Linked DNA regions of Homo sapiens. The protein of the gene in region 1 interacts with the protein of each later gene in a biochemical or structural test. Each region holds a gene or a part of one and is shown on either strand. Other genes may lie near its edges. The genes, in order: SH3GL1, MAP4K3 and DPPA4.

What was found.
Region 2: the proteins of SH3GL1 (region 1) and MAP4K3 form a complex in vitro, tested with the Homo sapiens proteins (one study listed by BioGRID).
Region 3: the proteins of SH3GL1 (region 1) and DPPA4 form a complex in vitro, tested with the Homo sapiens proteins (one study listed by BioGRID).

Annotation. Positions count from the first base shown.
Region 1 is NC_000019.10:4,362,017-4,369,677, forward strand, and holds part of SH3GL1 (endophilin-A2), read right to left. Parts: intron 4,979-7,661; coding exon 4,910-4,978; intron 4,558-4,909; coding exon 4,485-4,557; intron 3,610-4,484; coding exon 3,466-3,609; intron 2,206-3,465; coding exon 2,072-2,205; intron 1,863-2,071; coding exon 1,704-1,862; intron 1,458-1,703; coding exon 1,354-1,457; intron 721-1,353; coding exon 596-720; intron 370-595; coding exon 313-369; intron 1-312. UniProt on the Homo sapiens protein: Implicated in endocytosis. May recruit other proteins to membranes with high curvature.
Region 2 is NC_000002.12:39,427,200-39,434,860, reverse strand, and holds part of MAP4K3 (mitogen-activated protein kinase kinase kinase kinase 3), read left to right. Parts: intron 1-7,661. UniProt on the Homo sapiens protein: Serine/threonine kinase that plays a role in the response to environmental stress. Appears to act upstream of the JUN N-terminal pathway.
Region 3 is NC_000003.12:109,327,547-109,335,207, forward strand, and holds part of DPPA4 (developmental pluripotency-associated protein 4), read right to left. Parts: intron 6,448-7,661; coding exon 6,324-6,447; intron 4,486-6,323; coding exon 4,325-4,485; intron 4,239-4,324; coding exon 4,188-4,238; intron 3,267-4,187; coding exon 2,978-3,266; intron 1,543-2,977; coding exon 1,344-1,542; intron 479-1,343; coding exon 442-478; 3' UTR 1-441. UniProt on the Homo sapiens protein: May be involved in the maintenance of active epigenetic status of target genes. May inhibit differentiation of embryonic cells into a primitive ectoderm lineage.

The DNA.
Region 1 (7,661 bases):
TCCTGGGAAGTGCTGGGGACACCCGGTGCTGCTGCGGTGACAGGGAGTGACCAGATGCCCTCAAGCCCTTGTAGCCACCACACAGCCTAGAGCTAGCTGGGCTAGTGCCCTTGGCAATCCCTCATTCACACTGTGAGGCTGAGACCCAGAGGGGTGGCATCTTGCAGGCTGTGGGGCCTGTGCCCCCTACTGCTGCACGAGCCTGGCCCCTCCCTGCTTGAGATGGGCAGAGAACAGGGCGGGAGGAGAAACACCCTCCCCGAATGGCCGAGAAGGCAGCACTGAGGTCGAGGCGGGCCTGGGAACACTCACGCATGCTCCGGCTAGGGGTCCGGATGGGCTTGTCGGAAGATCGGAAAGACGATGAAGCTAAACACAAGCAAAACGAGGAGGCTGTGGGCTCAAAACGGTCGGGCAGGGCCCCTTCTGCAGAAGGCTGGGGCCAGCCCTTCCCGTCTGCCTTGGCGGTCCAGATGGAGCACGGCTGAGAGCTGCACCCAGGAGTCTGGCGCTCAGAGACCCAGGACAGGGCCAGCCCTTGGCCACTCCCACCCGCTGGCATTTGCCTCCGCAAGAGGGCTCCATGCCCCATTACCTGCGATCTTGGGGGCTGTGGTGCAGGGGAAGCCCCCGTTGGACTGCTCAGGCTCTCCAAGGTCAAAGGGCTCCCGGGGCTTGGGCTTATACTCCCGCTTAGGGCGTGAGGAAGCTTCCCGCATCCTGTGAAGGGAGAGGCGTGAGTGGACCGAGCCCGTGTCACGGCCGAGGCAGCCCCACTCTTGTATTTATGCTGCTGCCTAATGACCTGGCCTGGGACTGCAGGAAGAGGCCGTCAGTGGGGTTGTGACACATGGACCCTGGGACACAGCTAGACTGGGATGTCTACCCAGAGGGCCTCCAGCCTGGACCCCCACCTTGGAGGCATCCCAGAGATTGCCAAGCAGCTGGGGCCTGCCACAGCATCTACCTACAACACCCCCAGTCGCATCCCCTGCCTCCTCCCCCAATTCCCCACCACGGACGGCGCCCCACATACGCCAAGGCCCCTGAAGCAGGTCTGGCCTCTGCATTCAGGGAGGGGAGCCTGGGTGTTCCTGTGGCAGCAGCAACGTGCAGCCAGGGAGGGAGTCCCCGGGGCCTGCATCGGGGCAGGGCTGGGTGTTGACTCAGAGTTCTCAGAGCCCCAGCTCCTCTGACCTCGCGGCCCCCCAGGCCTTTCCACTCAGTCCCCAGGAAGAATCCAGGATGCTGCTCTGCCATGTGCTCACCCCACAGCGAGGTGTGCTGCCCACTTGCGCTGGCAGAGGGCGCATGGCAGCCCAGACTCTGGAGAGACCAAGGCCCTGGGCTCACCTGCGCTTGAGCTTCTCCGCCAGCTCGTCCAGGATCTGCACGGCCTGCCGGTGGTAGTCCAGCTGTGCATCCACCAGGGCCGAGAGCTGACTCACCTGCTCGATCTGTGGGGACAGTAGGGCTCAGGGGCTCCTGCCAGTGCCACTGTCCTGTGCCTTCCCTGACTCCCGAGGTGAAGCCACAGGAGGCAAGGGGGCTGAGAGGGGACAGGGGACTGGGGCCCATACCCTCCACCTCCCCTGCTGCAGCGGCCAGGTAGGTGCCGATCTGTCCTCCAGCTCCCTTGAGGCACCACCCCGGCCTCCCAAGGGCATAGGTCTTCTCAGGATGTGACACCCCGAGCTACTCACGTCAGTCTCCAGGAGGTTGTGCATGCTGGTTTCTGCCACCTCCTTGGACTCCTCGAACTTCTCCAGCGCCTGGCGTAGCTCCTCATCGGGGATCTTGCCCTGCCGCTTCTTCTTGTAGTCAAAGTCCAGGCGGCGGCCCTCCAGTTTCTTCAGGTGGTGCTGGAGACGTGGGGGACATGGGTCACACCAGTAGCGGCCAGAGGGCCGCCCCACGCATGGCTTTGACCCACTGTCCCTGCACCACTGGGGATCCTGCCTGCCTGAGACCCAGAGGGCAGTGCCGAGGCTGGAGGTGAGGGTGGCAGGAATGGGGCTGCCCCATCCGGCAGGGGGAAGGGACAGGCCCCAGGCTGGCGCAGGAGCAGCACCTGGATCTCCTTCAGGTCTTTCTCGCACAGGTTCTGGAGGGGGTCAATGAAGTTCTGCTTGACCTCGATGTCCAGGGAGTCCTTCACCTCTGCCAGGCGCTTCATGGACTCGCCGGCATCCAGCAATGCGTCACCTGTGGAGAAGTGGTGGGGGAAGCCATCATACCGGGCCTGGGACCACTAGACTGAGACACTCCTCAGCCTTTGTTTTTGAAATAGCGTTTCACAGGCTGGAACGCAGTGGCGCTGTACCAGCTCACTGCAGGCCTCAAACTGGGCTCAAGCCATGCTGGCACCTCAGCCTCCCAAGTAGCCGGGACCACAGGCGTTCACCCCCACACCTGGATCCTTTCCAACTTCTTTGAGATGAAGTCTCGCTGTTGCCCAGGCTGCAGTGCAGTGGCATGATCTCAGCTCACTGCAACCTCTGCCTCCCAGGTTCAAGCAATTCTCCTGTCTCAGCCTCCTGAGTAAGGGGGATTACAGGGGCCTGCCACCACATCCAGCTAATTTTTGTATTTTTAATAGAGACGGGGTTTCACCATATAGACCACACCGGTCTCGAACTCCTGACCTTGTGATCCGCCCGCCTCGGCCTCCCAAAGTGTTGGGATTACAGGCGTGAGCCACCGCACCCGGTTTTTGTTTTGTTTTGTTTTGTTTTGTTTTTTCATAGTCTCGGCTCACTGCAACCTCCACCTCCTGGGTTCAAGTGATTCTCCTGCCTCAGCCTCCCGAGTAGCTGGGGTTACAGGCATGCACTACCACACCCGGCTAATTGTGTGTGTGTGTGTGTGTGTGTGTGTGTGTGTATATATATATATATATATTTTTTTTTTTTTAGTAGAAGCGGGGTGGGGTTTCTCCATATTGGTCTTGCTGGTCTCGAATTCCCGATCTCAGGTGATCCACCTGCCTTGGCCTCCCAAAGTGTTGGGATTACAGGCATGAGCCACCACACTTGGCCCCATCCCAACTTCTAACAGCCCCCCAACACTCTAAGCCCAGGGCCCGGAAATTGGAACTCAGGGCAAAACAAAGGATCCTAAAATCCGAATCGATGCTGGACGTTAAACCAGACCCTCCAATGCTCCTAAAAGGGCCTAGGTTTGCCCTTAACAGGTGGAAGGACAGATGCTGGGGGGTCCAGGCCCTGGGGAAGCAGCTGGCTTGAGTTGGGGAAGGTCTGGAGCTACAGGAAGGGGCCCTATCAGCTGCTGGCCAGTGCTGGATGGGTTGGTCTGTGCAGTCTCCTGCACCTCTGCAGCTGGAAAGCTGTGGGGGCCACTGTACGTCCCCGGCACTCAGCACATGCAGGGCCTGGACCTGCCCTGCCTGTGTTGAGGTGTGGCCTCCAGGGACGGTGGGCGTGGCTTCCAGAGAGCACCACTCACCAAAGTTGGACTCGCCGCCCAGCTCCTTCCCGTGGCGGATCATGCACTCGCCCAGAAGCCCCTCCGACTGCGGGTAGCCGGGGTTCTTCACCTGGCCCCGGATCTTGGACACCGTGTTGAGCATGGTCAGCTTAGCCCGCGAGGCTGGGATAGGATGGCCAGGTGGGTGTGGGCTGTGAGGCCTGCACTCCTCTGCCCTGGCAGACTGCAGCCCCCACATCTCCTCCCCACCCTTGCTTCCTGTGCCTGTGGACAGCCTAGGCCACACAAAGCACAGTGGAATCCCCAGAGGGTCCCTTCCCTGCTCCTGCTAGCCTCAAAGGAGCTGGCAGCGGGTGGAGAGGTGACCAAGCTCCTCAGGGGGCAAAACCTCCTCCTTCCAAGGGCTGCTCCTCTTGGAACGTGGCTATGACCCCTCATCTGGGGGGTGCCAGGGAGGAGGCGCAGCAGTGATGTGCAGCGGGGGGTGGTTGAGGCCAAGGCTCCCGGGGTGGGTGATGAGCTGTGTCCCTTCCGCTGCCCGCTTGGGTCTGCTCCTGGCAGGGCCTGAGTGGACACTGCTGGGTGTGCGTCTGCCCCCTGTCCGTGGCCTCCTATGGAGCCAGCATTTGGGTTTTCCTTGGGGAAAAGCCCGTCTCTCAGCCAGGGAGACCCAGTCCCAAGCCCAAGAGGTGAAGTCCAGGCCAGGGGCACTGGGGAGGGGCGGCCAATACAAATGGATCCCACAAGTAAGCTGGGGGAGAGGCTCCCTGCCAGGACTGCTGGCTGGAAGAGGGGTTGAAGGCTGGGACGGCCCTGAGGAACCAGTCGGCATGAGAGTGAAGCCAACAGAGGGGCTGAGCTGCTGGTTGAGGTGGAAAGGCAGCATGCAGCACCAAGGATGGCCTCTGCACTCCGGGATCCAGCTGTGCCTGAAGCCCACAACCCATGAGCCTGGCGGTTCTGTCATCCCCTGCCTTCCCTCTGACACAGAGGCCAGAGGGCCTGGGGCAGGCCCTGGCAGTGGCTGGAGCACCCACCTGGGTTGGGCTGCAGGTACTCGATGGTCCTGGCCAGCACTTCTGTCACCGCCTTGCTGGTGACATCCACCTTCTGTGAAGAGAAGCAGCATATAAGACTCCACAGCCAGTGGGGGCCCAAGGCACACAAGACCCCCGCTGCTGCACCGCCTCCTGCCCTAAGAGCCCATACCAGGACCCCCCAACCCCCTCTCCATGTCTTCAGCTCAGCCATGTCCCCACAGCTGCCTGCCCACGGCAGGGGAGAGAGCTGGTGCCCGTCAAGTCCAGCTGACGAGGCCCCCACACCACCCCATCTCTCCACACCTGCCGGGCCCCATCACTCCAGACCCAGGCCCATCAAGGTTGGCCGCCTCCACTATGCCCGGCAGAGGTCAGGCCCCAGCAGTGCCACCACCACACAGAGCACGCAGTTTCTTCCTCACCTTCTCCATCTCTTTGAAGTCATCATCCAGCTTGGTCCCCTCGGCCCCTCCGACCTTCTCACTGACCAGCTAGAGGACAGAAGAGGGGAAACGCTGTGAGCCCAGGGGTAGGAGGAAGAAGAGGACAGGAGGCCCTGAGCCGCCTTCCAGCCACATCGCATCCACAGCTGGAGGCAGGAGGCCAAGTGATCAGGACACACACCTCAGGCACTGCCGTGGGCACCCCAGGGCCACACGCTGCCTGCAGAGCAGGGTGGGCCTGCAGGGGGAGGGGGAGGGTGGGGGTGGCCTGCCCACCTGTGTGTGTCCCGACTGCCACTCACATACCCACTGGGGACCCTGCCACAGTAGGCCCCATCTGGGCCACGGTGGAGTCCAGAGCCTCAGCCTGAGAACACATGGCTCAGAAGACACTGCTTCCAGAAGCGCCTACACAAACATCCCCACAGATAGCAATGTGGGGATCTGCCCCCATCCTTGAGTATGTGGGGTCTACTTAAAAAAAAAAATCCTGCCAGCTTGGCTGGGAGAGGCAGCAGGAGCTGACAGTTACGAGAAGAGGTGCAGGCAGCCGGGCAGGGAGGCCGCCATTCTCCTGTGCTCTGGTGCCCGTGTCTGCAGGATGGGACAGCCCAGCCCTTGCCCCATGTGGACACTGAGTTTCACAAGGCAGTCAACACAGGCCTGGCACACCTTGGTCCTCACGGCTCTCAGCTACGGTGAAAGCGATGACAATGACAGGCACTTACAGCGTCTTTCCTCGTGTGGTGGGAAGGCAGAAGCAAGCACTGAATTCCCAAACCACTCCCTCTGACAGCGCCTGGGATGCGAAAAACAGCCCTGAAATGTCCCATGGAACATGGCGGGAACCACTGAACCCCAGCACCGCTGTCTGAGCACAGGCGTTGCTTTCTTCACCCCACGTATCCCATGTGTGCCTGGCGCCAAGGGATGCCGCACAGAGTGAGGATGGACAGTGTGAGGCCCTTCCCAGCACACAGCGCTTCATGAAGAGCCGAGTGGCTGCCAGGCCCTGCCACAAATGGAGGCTCCCAGAGGGAGGCCGCCTGAGGTCACAAGCTTGGCCCTGCCCTCTGGGGGCCAAGTGTCACAGGGTGTGCCATCTCTGAAGTCATCGGCAAATTTAACATCCCGGGTCTGATCACTTGTGTGAAGACGTGCACACACGGCCTGGGCAGGAGAGTGAGGTGTTGCGTGCCGTGGGCCATGGCCTGTGCCCCTGGTGCTCCCCAGGTCTGATTGGTGCTTGCCTGCCCCGAGCTGTCACAAGACGTGGCCAAGGGATGCCATGAGGGTCCGTGTGGTGCCACACTGCGTTGGCTGTGTGGGGCTGGGGGGTGTCCAGCAGGGCAGTCAGGAGTTTAGGACCCAGCCTGGGAGGAAGTGACCCAAGAGCAGGAAGTGCGGGGGCAGGAGAAGCTTGAGCCTGGGGCTCTGCCCACGCCAGGCACCTGGTGTACCCTCTAGCCCATGCCTGGAGGTCACAGCCCAAGGCACCATGAGTGCAAATGCCCCCAACCCCAAGTTCTGCAAAAGGTAGCCTGCCCGGAGTACACGGCTGGTCTTGTGTCCTGGCAACCTGCCCAAAAAGACACCAGCCCCTTTGCCAAGGAATTCCTGGCCCTCCTCCAAGGCTTGGCTCTGGAAGCCCCCACACCACGGGACTGTCCTCACCCACGCATCGGGACCCTTTCTGTCCACCTGCCTTCATGTGCGGGGTGTGCCGGGCATTCAGTGAGCACAGGCCCCATGCCTCTGACCCCTGTCCCTTTCCTGCCTGTGGGTTGGTGGCTCTCAACTCAGCCACACAGCACCTTGGAAGCTTCTTAAAAATCCCCTCGTTGGCCGGGCGCGGTGACTCATGCCTGTAATCCCAGCACTTTGGGAGGCTGAGGCAGGCGGATCATGAGGTCAGGAGATCGAGACCATCCTGGCTAACACAGTGAAACCCCGTCTCTACTAAAAATACAAAAAAATTAGCCGGGCCTGATGGCGGGTGCCTGTAGTCCCAGCTACTCGGGAGGCTGAGGTAGGAGAATGGTGTGAACCCGGGAGGTGGAGCTTGCAGTCAGCAGAGATCCAGCCACTGCACTCCAGCCTAGGCGACAGAGCAAGACTCCATCTCAAAAGAAAGAAGAAAGAAAAAAAAAATCACCTCGTCACACCCACCGCGGGAGGGCTGACTCTGGCACAGGTGAGAAGCAGGAACTGTCCCTTGCGGGGCAGGAGAGTGGGGCTGCCCTCCATTTCTGCTGAAGGCATTAGGAGGAAGGAGCCCCCCCTCCCTAGGTGTTTTTGGGGCGTTCCACTCTATTTCCTGGGACAGTTTCACTTCTTTTGATTGTGGCGAGAGAGGGCGTGCTCAGAGCCAGCGGCTGCCGGAGAGGGAAATGAGTGGCTGATGTGAGACTGGACTCTTCTGGGAAGCCGGGAGGAGAACTGAAGCCAGCGGGCTGCGAAACCACACCTTCTGGGCGGAGGCCACCCCGGCCCCACGACCTGCCCAGGCAGGACCCAGTGTGCAGGCTGGCAGGAGTGGCTCCGTCAGGGCCCTTCCCCAGCCCCCTGCCTCTCACAGGGCAGGAGGAGAGGCCCTACCGGCGAGGACCACATCCTGCCTCTGAGGGGAGGGGCTGGGGACCCGCCACGGTACCAAAGACCCACCTGGTGGCCTCTGGCTCTGGCCCTGGCCCCACCTGCCCATCTCACCTGGGAATCCAGGACCCTGCCT
Region 2 (7,661 bases), on another chromosome or scaffold:
CTGATGTTTATGGAATGCTTGTTACTTGCCAGGCACTATAAGATTTTTCTAATTAATCCTAACAGCAACCCTGTGAGATAGGTGCTATTGTTAACTCCATTTTGCAGTTGAATAAACTGAGGCACAAGGAGATTAACTTGCCAAAGTTGGTAGGTGGCAAAGCCAAAATTTGAACCAATTAGGGACTGTATTCTTAACCAATTGGCAGTGCTGCCTCTCTAAAGATAGGAGATGGGCAGATAATGTATTACATTTCCAGTGGAGAAACTGAGGCACACATTTAGTTTAGCATTTGAGTTGTAGCCACACTCTGAGTCAGTGTAGATCTTTAAGTAGTAGTTGGAATACCTAATTCCTGCTGTGCCACAAGGTCTCACTGTTTATGTAGTCTGCCAAGTGGATATCAGATAATAGATGCTTGGTCCCTGCCTGCCAGACTCTTCCAATACCAGTGACCAAAGCAGAGAAACTTCATGTGGTTCTTGACATCATGTACCCCTGCCTGCCAAACTCTTGTTTATGTTTTTGTCTATAATCAAGTTTATTCTATAAAGTTACATTTTTTTGTTATTTGTTTTGCTGTTTTAGTTTTTTCTTATTTATACAAATTAATTGTGCTAGAGAGAAGTACATTTTGTTTTCAAAAGCCAATATATATAATTTGTTCCTTAATTTGTCAGCATTTACGTGCTAAAAATGGAATGATTGGATTAAATAAATAAGAGATCCGATTATAGTCATTCTTGGAAGGTTGGTGGAGATTTTTATTTTGAAAATGTTTTCCTACTCAATGTAATAACATATTTATTGTACTTAAGGTGGCGTGGTTTAGTTCCAAAGCACTGAACAAGGATGTGGACAATCTGGGATTTATTAGCTATGTGACCTTGTGAAATCAACCTCTCAGAGCTGTTTTGTTGTGGAGATATTATTACCATCATATGCCCTTCTTCTTTTGGTATTGACTAAATGACTCAAATTTTACTTAGTAAGTAAGTTATCTTTATTTTTTTCAGGCCAATGCATATATACATTTTATCTGCACTGTCTAAAGTCGTATCTTGTAAGTGTCGTGTAACTCTGCAGGCTTTATCTGTCATGAAGTGCCTGCAGCTTGGGTTACCTAGGGACCTAGGAGCTGGCAACTGAAGCTCTTTAGTTGGGCCTCAGGAGGCCCATGGAGTGCTCTGAAATTAATAGGCTTAATGTTGTATGTATTTGTGTTTTTCTGTGGAGATGGGTTATAGCATTCATTGCATTCTTAAAGAGCTTCATGATCCAAAAAAATGAAAAAATGATCCATAGGTTTGCCATTCAAAAAAGTTTTCTTGGAGAAATTAGGTAGTTATAATAGATCATAATATGATTTTCACATGCATTGTGCCATCTTTTGTCAGGCAGTTTTCCAGTTTAATTTTTATTATTCCTACCCTTTAAGTCTTGATGTCCTTATGTTTTTCTAGATTTTTTGCTAGAAAGAAGCAGGAGATAGTAAAGCTGGAGATGGGATAAGGCAAAAGAAGTTTTGAAAGAATAGTCTCAATATGGTTTCTGAGGAAGTATCTTACCTAGTCTTATGGTTTTAGTCTGGTCCCTGTGAATGATTCCTAGCCTGTGTATCCAAGACTGGATACACAAAGACTCCAGGCTGTAAGCCTTAGAGTCATCTTTAGTGACTTCTGGACTGGGCTTCTTAGGCATTAGCTAAATTCTGTACACAGGCATTTTCCAAAGTGTGGTTGGGGTGCTTCAGGAAAAGCCATACCATGAGTAGGTTAAAGACTGAGAAGTCCTATGGTAAAGAAACCTGGTAAACTTTGCTTAACCTAGCAAACTCCAAACTTACTTGACTATTAGATTCTTTTTCTCTGTAATACATATTGCTTGTCCTTAGTACTAGTGTTTTGTAGAACATGCTTTGGAAACGTTGATATTGATTTTTTTTCACCTTTGTGTGTTTGGAAGCCATTCCCTCTGAAGCACGGGCTGCCGTGTTGTTAAGCTTCCAGGTAGGATTCACATCGTAGTCTGTGTAAATAGATTTAAAGTGTCTGTGAAAGCTGGCAGGAAAAAAGGTGAGGATTGGGCAGTAAAATAAGGAAACCAATTTATATGCATTTAGATAATTACGTGTTAGTTTATTTGTAATTATGCATCTTTCAAGGTGTTCTATTTAATATCATCATAGACTAATTCTTCCATTATAATCAGCATTTGTGAGAACCTTTCTGGAAAACTCAATTCTTAAACCTAACGGATAAGGAATATGAAGACCTTAAGCATTTAGAAAAGAACATTTGAAGGAAGCTCAAACATTGTTATTTGGAGTTATGCTCACTTCTATTTACTTCCATTTAGGATAGACTCTAATAGACTCTAGAGAGACCAGAAGAAATGGCCCTAAACTTCAGAAAGATCATTTGAAGTTGAATAAGGTAGAATTTCCCATCATCAGTTGCTATTTGAGATGAAAAGTGACAATGAAACAGGTAGCGAGGTAATTTTTCTAGAGTGTTTGAAAAACAAACAGGTTTTCTGACTTTGATGCAGATCTGATTACCTAAAGGAAGTACTTACCTCCAGCCTTTGATCTGTATATGTATTTATTGGTGAAACGTATCTAATGCATCATTTTGTATTAAGAATGAATAGTAAGTTCTCTCATGAGAGTACATTGAACAGCCATCATACATTGAACAGCTGTAATATGAGAGGAAATGTGTTATGAACTGTGAGTAGAGTAGCAGAAATGACAAGGCTTGGTACTTGGTATTTACAGGAACATAAAATGTGTACCTGCTATTAGCTGTCATAGTTTGAGATCAGAACCTTTTGGTTTCCTCATTTATATCATATTAAATCTCTTGCTGGCTGAGAGACTCTCTAGATACTCCATAATTGCACAACCGACCTCTGTAGCACAGCATAGTGATTTGAGAACAGGGTTCTGGAGCCAGGCTGCCTAGTTTCACCACCCACTAGCTTTGTCCTTAGGCCAATTACTTAATCCCTCTCTGTGTGTCTCAGTTTCCTCAGCTGTAAAATGGAGATGCTTAGAAAAGTGCTTGGGACAGTACCTGACACAAAAAAGTGTGGTCATTGTTAATTGCTGTTAGTGTCTAGAAGTATTTATTATTATGTATTTCTCCTCCTACTGTCCTTCTAACCAACTGCATTCCTCATGCTTTGCCTCAGGGTTTTTAGCTTGCTGTCTCTGCCTAAAATCCACCCCTCCCCACCAATATCTGTTTGGCTTGCTTCTTCGTTTAAAGTCTCAGCTCAAATGTCATCTTTTAATGAGCCTGCTCCTTTCCACCCTACAAAAAACAGCACTTCTCCCACCACTTTCAGGGATACAGTTCAGGGATGGATCCAGGTTTTACGGGACCTGAAGTTGATGCAGTTTTGGGGACCCTCATTAAGAAAACAAAACTAGAATTAAAAAAGGTATGAAAGTGAATCTTTAGAATGAGAAAAGATATCCCAACAAAATACTGTAACCTTAGGTCCCTTTCTTCTGAGACTTCCTTAGGCATTTAATCACAAATGCTCACAAAAAAATGCTTTCTGATGACTCCCTGGCTCCCTGTCTCCACCTGGAATACTCTACATGTCCCAGCAACTCTCAGCACTCATAGAGGACCATGCAAGTGAAGGGGCCTGAACTTTAAGTTTTGTTAGCTTCACAAAAAATTCAGTTGGACTCTTTACTTAATTTTTAATTATGGCATGTATCACCACATGTTTATTTGTTTATAGCCTGTCTCTTCCCACTAGAGTATAAATCCAGGAAACTGGTGATTTTGCTTTGTTCATTGCTGTATCCCCAGAGCCTAGAAGAGTAGCTGACCCATATTAGGTTCTTAATAAATATTTATGGAATGAATAAATGAACCAACACGAGAGGAACAAACCATGGCTACATGAGTTTAGAGGAAGGAGATCATTATTTCTGACTGGGAGAAATCACAGCAGGCCTTGCAGAGGAGGTGGCATTGGGCTTGACTTAGAGTTCTGGCAATAGTGGGTACAGAATGAGTTAAATGTAATGGGTTATTATTAGGTCTTAAATCTAATCAGTAGGGTTAATGTATCTTTGGCATATTAAGCAATGTTCATAATTGTTATATGCATATGAAGATACTCCGTCATTTTGAACTAAATACCCCTAGTGACTGACTAGTGAATACAGCAGTAGGCTATCACATATGACTTTTATTTTGTTTTTTTTAAAATACGATTAAATTGGGCTTTTAGGAAGAGGACTTTGTTCACCAATACAAAAAAAACCTTCGATTCAAGAGATGAAATCATGTTTCTTTTTTAATTTTTATTTATTTTTTCATACCACCTTTATATGTACAAAAATCATATTTCTTTTCTGCTTTAGGTTTTTTTTAGTCTTTTTTTGTTCTGGAAGATGCCACATTTCTGAGTTCTAACTGCCTTGACCTGATTATAGGTTTGGTTTCCTAATGTAATAATGTACTGCCTACCTTAGCCCTTAAACTCTATAGAATAATTTTAGATTTGACCATAAATTTACATATGTTGAAATAAGACACTTATTTTGTTTGTTTAAGCTCTTAGAAATTTGAGATTGTAAAAATTCTTTCTGTATAAAGGATCATCTACCTTACCTTGCTCAAAGAATCTCCTCTTCATCGCCTGTATGCTAACCTACATACACCATGATAGTAAGGCCTCCCCAGCCATGTGGAACTGTGAGTCAATTAAACCTCTTTCCTTTATAAATTACCCAGTCTTGTGTATGTCTTTATTAGCAGCATGAGAACAGATTAATACATGCCCCTTCCCAGCCAGTCATAAATACCACCCACCCACAATTATTGTTCTCCTTTCGGTCACCATGAAAGCTCTTTTAGAACTTTGTATAAATGAATCATGAGTGAATTGCCTCAGCACTTTTGATGAAAATCAGTTGACAGTACACATGTGAGTATATCTGGACTCTTGTTCTTTTGAGCTGTATGTCTATACTTTCACCAATACCTCAGTGTCTTGTTTACTGTAGCTTTATCAAAAGTCTTGAAATTAGGCAGAGTGGGTCCTCCAATTCTGTTCTACCTTTTCAAAATGGTTTTATCTATTCTAGGTCCTTTGCTTTTCCATACAAATTTTTGAATCAGCTTTTCAAGTTAAATATAAAAGCCTACTGGAATTTTGTCTTAACTTTAAATTTTGAGATACATAATTCTAAATTCATTGCAAAAAGAGGAAAAGAGGTCTCATGTACCCAACACCCACCTTCCCCCAGTGGTGATATCTTTACATACCTATAGTGCATTATCAAAACGAGGAAATTAGTTGGCACAATACAGTTAACTAAGCTTTAGTCAGATTTCACCAGTTTTTGTATGCATTCATTTTTTATATCTTTGTATATAATTTTGTGATATTTTATATACACAGCCTGCTGGGATTGTGTGGGATCTGTCACTCAGTTAGTGGAGAATTGAGATCTTAAAAACATTGAGTCTTCTGATCTATGAATATGATATACCTTTACATTTATTTAGATGATCTTTATCTCATCAATATGTTGCTTTATTTTAATTAATTAATGTTATCCCTGGCTTTTCCTACTAATATTGCAGTGAAACATAATTGTGGAAAACTTCTCCAGGATTGCGTAGTAATTATAATGTGAGCCATATTTTCAGTTTTCATTAAAATTCTCATTGTACTAGTAGTTTCTGACTTCCTTTGGCTTAGTCTTGTTCATTTTTAACCCTGAGCATATGGACTCCTTTTTTTTTTTTTTTTTTTTTTTTTGAGACGGAGTCTCGCTCTGTCGCCCAGGCTGGAGTGCAGTGGCGCTATTTCGGGTCGCTGCAACCTCCGCCTCCTGGGTTCAAGCAATTCTGCCTCAGCCTCCCGAGTAGCTGGGATTATAGGCATGTGCCACCATGCTGGGCTAATTTTTGTATTCTTAGTAGAGACGGGATTTCACCATGTTGGCCAGGCTGGTCTCGAACTCTTGACCTCGTGATCCACCCGCCTCAGCCTCCCAAGGTGCTGGGATTACAGGTGTGAGCCACTGCACCCGGCCCATGGACTCCTTTTAATAAAAATTGACAAAAATGAAAGGGAAACAGGCAAAATGACTATTTAAAAAGATATCCATTTTTTCTATGTATCCAAAGATTTTTTTTTTGAGGCAGAGTTTTGCTCTTTCTCTTGTTGCCCAGGTTGGAGTGCGATGGCATGATCTCAGCTCACTGCAACCTCTGCCTTCCGGGTTCAAGCACTTCTCCTGCCTCAGCCTCCCGAGTAGCTGGGATTACAGGCACCCGTCACCACGCCCAGCTAATTTTTTGTATTATTTTAGTAGAGATGGAGTTTCGCCATGTTGGCCAGGCTGGTCTCGAACTCCTGACCTCAGGTGATCACCTGCCTCAGCCTCCCAAAGTGCTGGGATTACAGGCGTGAGCCACTGTGCCGGCCCCAAAGATTATAACAAATACCTTATAAAACTTGGTTTACTTTTATATATGAGATGTGTGTGTTTCTGTGTATTTTGCAAAACTCACAGCTTTTGAGCTTATTAAAGGAAAATACACTTAAAGTTTACTTCATCCTTAAGTGAAAAATAACACTGCTAGGTTGTTTAGGAGATCCTAAAGAAAATTCTTACCCTGAGGAACTTAAACCCTGATATAAGGAAACAAAATCTGCATGTATGGAACATCTAAGGAACATGCCTAAGGCACTATTTTAACAATTAGAAGAAAACAATAAAACTATATAAATACTGTAGGAATTTTAATTTAAGGGAAAAATAAGTTGACTTCCTGAAAGAGTGAATCTTGACCTGGGACTTGAAGAAAAATTGTATTTGCGATTGTGGAGAACTGTGAAGTCATACCAAAAGAGTAAATATGGGTTAAAAATACTGCTGTAGAACCTAAGTGGGCAAAGAAGTAATAAGACAACTATTCTAAGGAGACATATTGGGAAATGTGGTAGATAATGTTTCACATATATAAGATACAGATAAATGAATGCCAGTTGAAGAATTTAGAACTCACTTGACCTACAATGTAGTATTTTTCAAATTCATTAGGGCCACTCTTTTCTCTAACGTGCTTGGGTAGCTATTTAGATGGTATTCAATAAGTTTTATTTCTTCCCTTTCATCTCTATTGATTTAGAAGTTAAAAGATTTTACTTTTATGCTTTTGGTGGTTACCGTTAAATTTGCAACTTGTGTAATTAGTCTGAAGTTAACTGATCTTTCTCTGTTCTCTTTCTGGTCAGTATGTGGATTTTAGAAGGCTTAATTTCATTCACTACCTTACTGTTTTGTGTTGTCTCTTACTTTGGTTCTACTGTTCTTAAATGTCCCAGTTTAGTTTTTATTATTGTTTTATACAGACAGTGCTTCTTTACATTTACGTGTAGGAGTTTTCAATTTCTTTGCTCACTGTTTCTTCTTGGCCTTATATTCCTTCATTCTGGGTTCAGATTTCTTTAATCTTGAAGCTGTATTTGGTAGGATTTTTTTTCTTTCTTTTAACTTTTCTTTTTAAGTGAGGAACTGTATAAGGTAAACTCAGTCTTCCTCCTCCCCCTCCTCATTGTCTTTATTTTGTCTTTACTTTTAAATCATAGTTTAGTGGGGTATAGAACTCTAAATT
Region 3 (7,661 bases), on another chromosome or scaffold:
CTGTACCTAGCTACTCAGGAGGCTGAGGCAGGAGAATCATTTGAACCCAGGAGGCGGAGATTGCACTGAACTGAGATTGCACCACTGCACTCCAGCCTGGGCAACAGTGAGACACTGTCTCAAAATACAACAAAAAAAAGCTGCTGCTGAAGTCATGTCTATTTTAGAAAAGTAGTATGAATGAGTTTTTCTACATATTAACTACAATTTATGGTAATTTGTGAAATGTTTTTCCATTTTTAAATGTAAGAGTCTCTATCTCCACTCACAAAGCAACAGGCACTGCTAGGGGTCTTAGGCTAACATCTGCCACCCCACCAGTCTGCATGGCCCATAAACAGGTGCAGAGGACCAGAGTTCACCTGTCAGCAGCACCGCAGAATCCAACTCTCCAGCTTTTCTGCCATTAATTACCATAGATGTGGCCTTTTTCCTGATATTCTATTCCCATTGGAGGCTTTTTATTAAGACCTTGTTCCTATAAAGCAAATAAAGTATTTGTTTTTAAAAAGAATGAAGAAATATTAAAAATAGCCAAGAAACCCGCTGCTGGAATGCTGTTGAAATTGCCCTTACAACTTTAGGATCATAGGTAGCAAGCCTGTGATCCTGTCATTCAAGAATGAAGATCATCAGCCAAGTTATCATGCCTCTGTAATATATTCCCTGACTTGTGCCAACCATGGACAGGAGGCCTTGGAGGGGCTCTTTTCATCACTTTCCCAAAAACCTAAGTATGTCATTAAAGGACTACCCAAAGTGACCTCCTCAGTTCTCTTCAACTTGCTTGGCATAGAGAGATTATCAAAACACTCACAGCAAAAAGTAGGATATCCCAAAGAAGGAAAAGCCAATCACACATTCACATACTTCCTCCTGTGGGAGATGGTCTTGCTACGTTTCCCAGGCTGAGAAATTACCGATCTCTCCTTTCCATCTAGTCGATTCTTCCCTTAACTTAAGGAACCTCTTCTTTGATATTCATCATGTTATTCTAGGTGTTTACATGCCCACCATCCCTGTTAAGACTGTAGGCTACTTAAAGGAAGAGGTTTTTTGCTAGTCATTATTTCTGTGTAGAGCATACACTTTGAATATAGTAATTATATAATGTTTGTTGCTCCCAGAATTCTGTGTCTCCAGGTAGAAGCATTAAACCCTGACACATAAATGCTTTCTTTTTCCTGGGGATAAACTTAACTGAGTAATAATTTTCTTGAAACTCTTTACTGACAATTTGAGCTTGAAATACCTGGCTATTTAAGATTAATGTATATCTTAACTTTCTGCAATTGAAAATCCGGCACCCACTTTTAGTTTGTAGAAAAGCATCAGGTAATTACCTGTGAACACATTTGGGGCACAACATATTGTCTTCAAGGTGCGGGGGTGGAAAATTGGAGGCAGGAAGCAAGAAGAGTGCACTCACTCTCCCTTCTTGCTTTTCTGGAACCCAGGCTTGACCAGCATGAAACTGCAGGTGAACCCAACCATCTGTGTCTGCAGGGAGACTTTTCCCATGGACCACACACCACCTGACACCTGGCAATGGCAAAGGAAAGAGACAGGTACCCGCACACCAGGATGACATACTGATGTAAGACTGCATTATGGCCCATCACCCTTGATTGACCAGCTCCAAGATGTGAACCCTGAAATCCTAACTTAACCTCTTCTCTATTCTGTTCTCCTTTAGAAAAGCATACAAGCTGGGCGCAGTGGCTCACGCTTGTAATCCCAGCACTTTGGGAGGCCGAGGCGGGTGGATCACGAGGTCAGGAGATCGAGACCATCCTGGCTAACACAGTGAAACCCCGTTTCTACTAAAAATACAAAAAATTAGCCAGGCGTGGTGGCGGGGGCCTGTAGTCCCAGCTACTCAGGAGGCTGAGGCAGGAGAATGGCGTGAACCCGGGAGGCGGTGCTTGCAGTGAGCCAAGATTGCACCACTGCACTCCAGCCTGGGTGACAGAGCGAGACTCCATATCAAAAGCAAAACAAAACAAAAAGCATACAAGACAGTTCCTGTTAAAACTTAAAAATCTAGTTGGAAGTAGTATAGTTGTAGGTGGGCAGATGGTAGAAAGACTAACCCAGAGTGTCTGGAAAGGGCTTCATGAAATAAGCTCAGGGGTCTCAGCTCTTAACACACATTGGATTATGCTAAGCAGTTTGTCTTCTTTTGTTGTACTTTCTGTAATTCTTCCAACATATAAGGTAGGTATTACCCATTTTACAATGAAAACGCTGGGAAATATTTTAAATAACTTATTAATGCCATTCTGGGGCTCAGTTGCAGGCAATTAATTTTAGACCTTGCCTTTAATTTAAATTGCTTAAAGGGTAAAGAAAGAAAACCAGACTGCTATCCCCTTCTGATGCCATCAATAATTTAGAGCAGTGGTTCTCAAACTGTGGTCCCCAGACCAGCATCCTTAGTACTGCCTGGGAAACTGTTAGAGATGCAAACTCTTGCCAGGTACGGTGGCTCACGCCTGTAATCCCAGCACTTTGGGAGGCCAAGGTGGGAGGATCATCTGAGGTCGGGAGTTCGAGACCAGCCTGACCAACATGGAGAAACCCCATCTCTACTAAAAAGACAACATTAGCCGGGCATGGTGGCACATGCCTGTAATCCCAGCTACTCAGGAAGGCTGAGGCAGGAGAATTGCTTGAACCTGGGAGGTGGAGGTTGCGGTGAGCTGAGATCGCGCCACTGCACTCTAGCCTGGGCAACAAGGGAGAAACTGTCTCAAAAAAAAAAAAAAAAAAAAAAAAAAAAAAAGGAAAAAAAAAAAAGAAATGCAAATAAATGCTCAGGTCCTGCCCTAGACCTGCACCAGAAACTCTGTGGGCAGGGTCCAGGAATCACCGGCCCTCAAAGGGATTTTGATATACCCTAAAATGTACCAGTGATTAATATCTACTAAGCTTATTTCCCCATTGGACCAGAATAAGCTCTTCATGTTGCGCTTACCAGAGGCCTCTTGTGGAGATTCCACTGCCTCTGGTGTCCTCGCCCTGGCTGAAATTCTCGCCCAGGAGGCCAGCAAAGCCTCTGGGGCAGAAGTTGTCACCACAACTGTATTAACTCCCTCAAGGAGAGCAGTGGAATTTTCCAGGGCAGGCGGCTCCCCCACAGGAGGAAGAGCCACTTCAGGAGGATGTGTCTCAGAACTTTGCAGGGACGTTTCCCCCTTTTCCACCTTTAATTTTTTTTGCAATGATTTCCGGATTTTGGCCTCTTTTGCTGTGCTAGGAAAATCCTACAAAAAGGGTTAAATAATAAAGATAAAAATACAGATTAAAATTCTAACAAAAATGGCCTAAGGAGCTCTTGATCAAATACAAAGTTTCACTTAGGAGGACTAGGTTCAAGAGATCTATTGTACAAGTTGGTAACTATACATAGTTAATAACAATGTACTGTCTTCTTGAAAATTGCTCAGTTGGCCACCCAGTGGCTCAGGTCTGTAATCCCAGCACTTTGGGAGGCCAAGGTGGGTGAAACACTTGAGGTCAGGAGTTCGAGACCAGCCTGGCCAACATGGTGAAATCCCGTCTCTACTAAAAATACAAAAATTATCCAGGCATGGTGGCTCATGCTTGTAATCTCAGCTACTCCAGGGGCTGAGACAGGGGCATCACTTGAACCAGGGAGGCAGAGGTTGCAGCCTGAACTGCAGCCTAAGTGACAGAGGGAGACTCTGTCTCAAAAAAAAAAAAAAAAAAAAAAAAGAAAGAAAAGAAAAGAAAAGAAATGAAAAGAAAAAAATAGAAAAAAAGAAAATTGCTGGCCAGGCACAGTGGTTCACGCCTGTAATCCCAGCACTTTGGGAGGCCGAAGTGGGTGGATCACCTGAGGCAGGCGCCTGTAATCCGAGCTACTCTGGAGGCTGAGGCAGGAGAATTGCTTGAACCCGGGAAGTGAAGGTTGCAGTGAGCCGAGATGGTGCCACTGCACTCCAGCCTGGGTGACAGTGCAAGACTCTGTCTCAAAAAAAAAAAAAAAAAAAAAAAAGAAAGAAAGAAAGAAAAAAAAGAGAAGTAGAGATGGGAAATATTGTTCTTTCTTAGAACTAGGGGTGGAGGAACAAGGTGAGGCTAAGACAGTTCCTTTACTCACTTTTGAGGCTACAATAGGTAATTAGGATAAGCATTGAAACGTCCATCCTTTAAAAAGTTACCTTTTGATTTGGGTAGGCAAAGGCACACAGGCGCTTATATGCATCCAATTTCTAAGACAATAGAAAACTGAGTTAGTAAGGCAAATAAGGTTCCTACCCTTCCTCCCAGCAGCACCGTCCCCAGCCTGGGACCTCACCTGGCCTTTGGAGCTCAGCTTCAATTGTTGGCACCAGGCCCGCAGAATGTCCCGGTGAATCAGATTAACAGGTGGCAGTTTAGAAGGTAATGGAGGGATTGGTATCTTCTTCTGAGGTCTGGGGTTGTCAGTGTGCTCTGCCTTTTTCTTAGGGCAGAGCACTGAAGCAGAATGGAATCAAATGAGTAGTAATTATCTTTGTGTAGCTTTTCTGAATTTCAAAAGTAAAATCACTTTTTTTTTCTTTTTTGAGACAGAATCTTGCTCTGTCGCCCGGCTGGAGTGCAGTGGCGCGATCTTGGCTCCCTGCAACCTCCGCCTCGTGGGTTCAAGTGATTCTCCTGCCTCAGCCTCCTGAGTAGCTGGGATTACAGACGCCCACCACCACGCCCGGCTAATTTTTTGTATTTTTAGTGGAGATGGGGTTTCACCATGTTGGCCAAGCTGGTCTCGAACTCCTGACCTTGTGATCTGCCCACCTAGGCCTCCCAAAGTTCTGAGATTACAGGCCTAAGCCACCGCGCCCAGCCTAAAATCACTTTTAGTTAATAGTCCAATCCCTCTCAAACCTAGGATTTACCACTTCTAAAACCCAGTTTTATTCCTAAATTGCCCCACTACTGAGGTACACTTGCTCCTTTGTGAGCTCCTTAATCCACAGAATCCAGGTGGTGGCATCGGAGGTTGCACTTCCATCCCAGGGGAATTACCGCTGTCTTAGACTTGAGATCATACTCAGTGGTGTCCTCTACCCCCAGAGCAAAATCAACACCTGACAATGCTACACAGGCAACCACTAATACCCTTAATTCTGCCAGCCCACCCTAGGTCAGGGAAGCACTCTGGTTTCATAGCAGGTATGTTTCCTTAGCTCTGCTGTGTTTCTGTTCATCCCGCTTCTGCACCTCACATACCTTGTCTTCATTCAGTAAAGATTTCTGGCTGGGCGCAGTGGCTCACACTGTAATCCCAGCACTTTGGGAGGCCGAGGTGGGTGGATAACCTGAGGTCAGGAGTTGGAGATCAGCATGGTCAACATGGTGAAACGCCGTCTCTACTTAAAAAATTAGCTGGGCGTGGTGGCACATGCCTGTAATCCCAGCTACTTGGGAGGCTGAGGCAGGAGAACTGTTTGAACCCGGGAGGCAGAGGTTGTAGTGGGCCGGGATCGTGCCATAAAAATTTCTAAGGCTGGGCATGGTGCCTCACACCTGTAACCCCAGCACTTTAGGAGGCCAAGGCAGACGATCACTTGAGGCCAAGAGTTTGCAATCAGCCTGGCCAATATGGTGAAACCCTGTCTCTACTAAAAATACAAAAATCAGCCAGGCATGGTGGCACACGCCTGCAATCCTAGCTAACTTGGGAGGCTGAGACAGGAGAATTGCTTGAACTCGGGAGGCACAGGTTGCAGGGAGCTGAGATGGTGCCACCACACTCCAGCCTGGATGACAGAGCAACACCCTGTCTTGGTGTCTCAAAAAAAAAAAAAAAAAAAAAAAAAAAAAACCAGCCTGTAATGACACTAATAGTAGGGTTTACTCTGTACATATTACTTCTCAGGCATAGTCTAAGTGCTTCACTTAACTACTCTATGTAAATTTTAACACTCCATTCCCACCGCTTAATAAAGGTAGATATTGTCCTAACTTATTTTTAGAATAGGAAGTCCGGTTTCAAGAATGGATCTTCAAATTTACAGCTGTCTGTTCCCAAATCATTGCACACTGAAATCCTTAACTCCAAGTAGCAAGTGAAGGAAAAAATGATCAGCAGAACCAAATATGCTGTGGAAGTCTGAAGATAGGAAGGGATCAGTTAGAGCAGTGGTGACCAAAAGATGCTTCAGGAAGGTAACAGTTTAAGCTTGGCTTCCATGAAGTGCAGGATTTGCACAATACATGATGGAAATTTCTTCCCTGGTTTTTCTTCTTCAGAAAAATTCCTCTGGCTTCTAAGACCCGAGAAGGTGGGATTTGAGAATTTGAAGACCTCTTACCTTTACTGCCTTTGATAGACATTTTTTCTTTGGTTCTCTTTGCTGATGTTCCTGGCAAAGCAATTGAATTTGGTTGATTAGAAGCCTGCTGATCCTCTTCCCTCGACTTCTCTGTGGAGGTCCACTGGGGAACAGAGGAGCTGGTCAGTCATTCCTCTAGTGTCCAAACCACACATACACTACCTGCCTCAAGATAACTCACTTCTAAGGCACCAACGCAGTTACTGGACTCCACTGGCAGTGTGGATTCTCCTCTGGGTATCATCTTAATACTCAGTTTCATTTACAAGACTGGGAAACAATGATGGAAAAAAAGGGAGGAAGCCAGTTTGAAAGCACATGAAAAGACAGATACAAACAAGAGTAGAAGAAAACAGCTCTGCCTTGAGGGGAAAAAGCGCTTAGGTAGGCTCACGCCTGTAGTCTGAGTGCTATAGGAGGCCTAGGCAAGAGGATTGCTTGAGTCCAGTAACTGGATACCAGCCTGAGCAACAACATAGTGAAACCTTGCCTCTACATAAGGAAACAAAATTAGCTGAGCATGGTGGTGTGTGCGTGTAGTCCAGCTACTCGAGACTGAGATAGGAGGATTGCTTGAGCCAGGGAGGTAGGTAGAGGCTGCACCACTGCACTCCAGCCTGGGTGACAGAATGAGACTGTCTCAAAAAAAAAAAAGAGGCCCTTAACTCACTTACTATATTCCATCATCTCTCACCTGGCAGAATTTTTTCCCCCAGTCCTTCATTCTTGACGCCTTCCAAATAATTTTCTAACACTGTTGGCAGAGTGACACTATGAAAAGTTTCAGTGGTTTATTGCTCTTAACATAAAAGTAATTGTCTTTAACATTACCTACCAGCCTCTTATCTCCTATTTCACACTGCTCTCCCTGACCAAGCTCCAGCCACATAATTCCTTTCCTTTCCAAAGTTGTTACATTCCTCAGCCCCAACCTCCACCCTACTTCTATTTACACTTTAAAATCTTACACCTTAAAAATCTTACTCTTCTTTTAAAAGTCTCACCTCAAGTGCTATTTAACCTGGTCCTTCCAGACCAATCTACTAAATACTACCTCATTTCTACCACTTGTTAATTGCAATTACATTGGTTTGTGTGATTTCTTTTTCATCATAGGCACTCAATAAATATTGGTTCATTGAATTAAAGGAAGCAAAGTGGGAGTGGGGAAAAGTTGTTTAATCCAGAGACAGTAACATATATTGAGCCTCTGTCTCATACTAGGCATTGGCTTTGATATGCTCCTCACTTTCATTTTTTTAAAAAATATTTATTTATTAAAGAAAAGGTCTTGCCCTGTCACACAGGCTGGAGTGC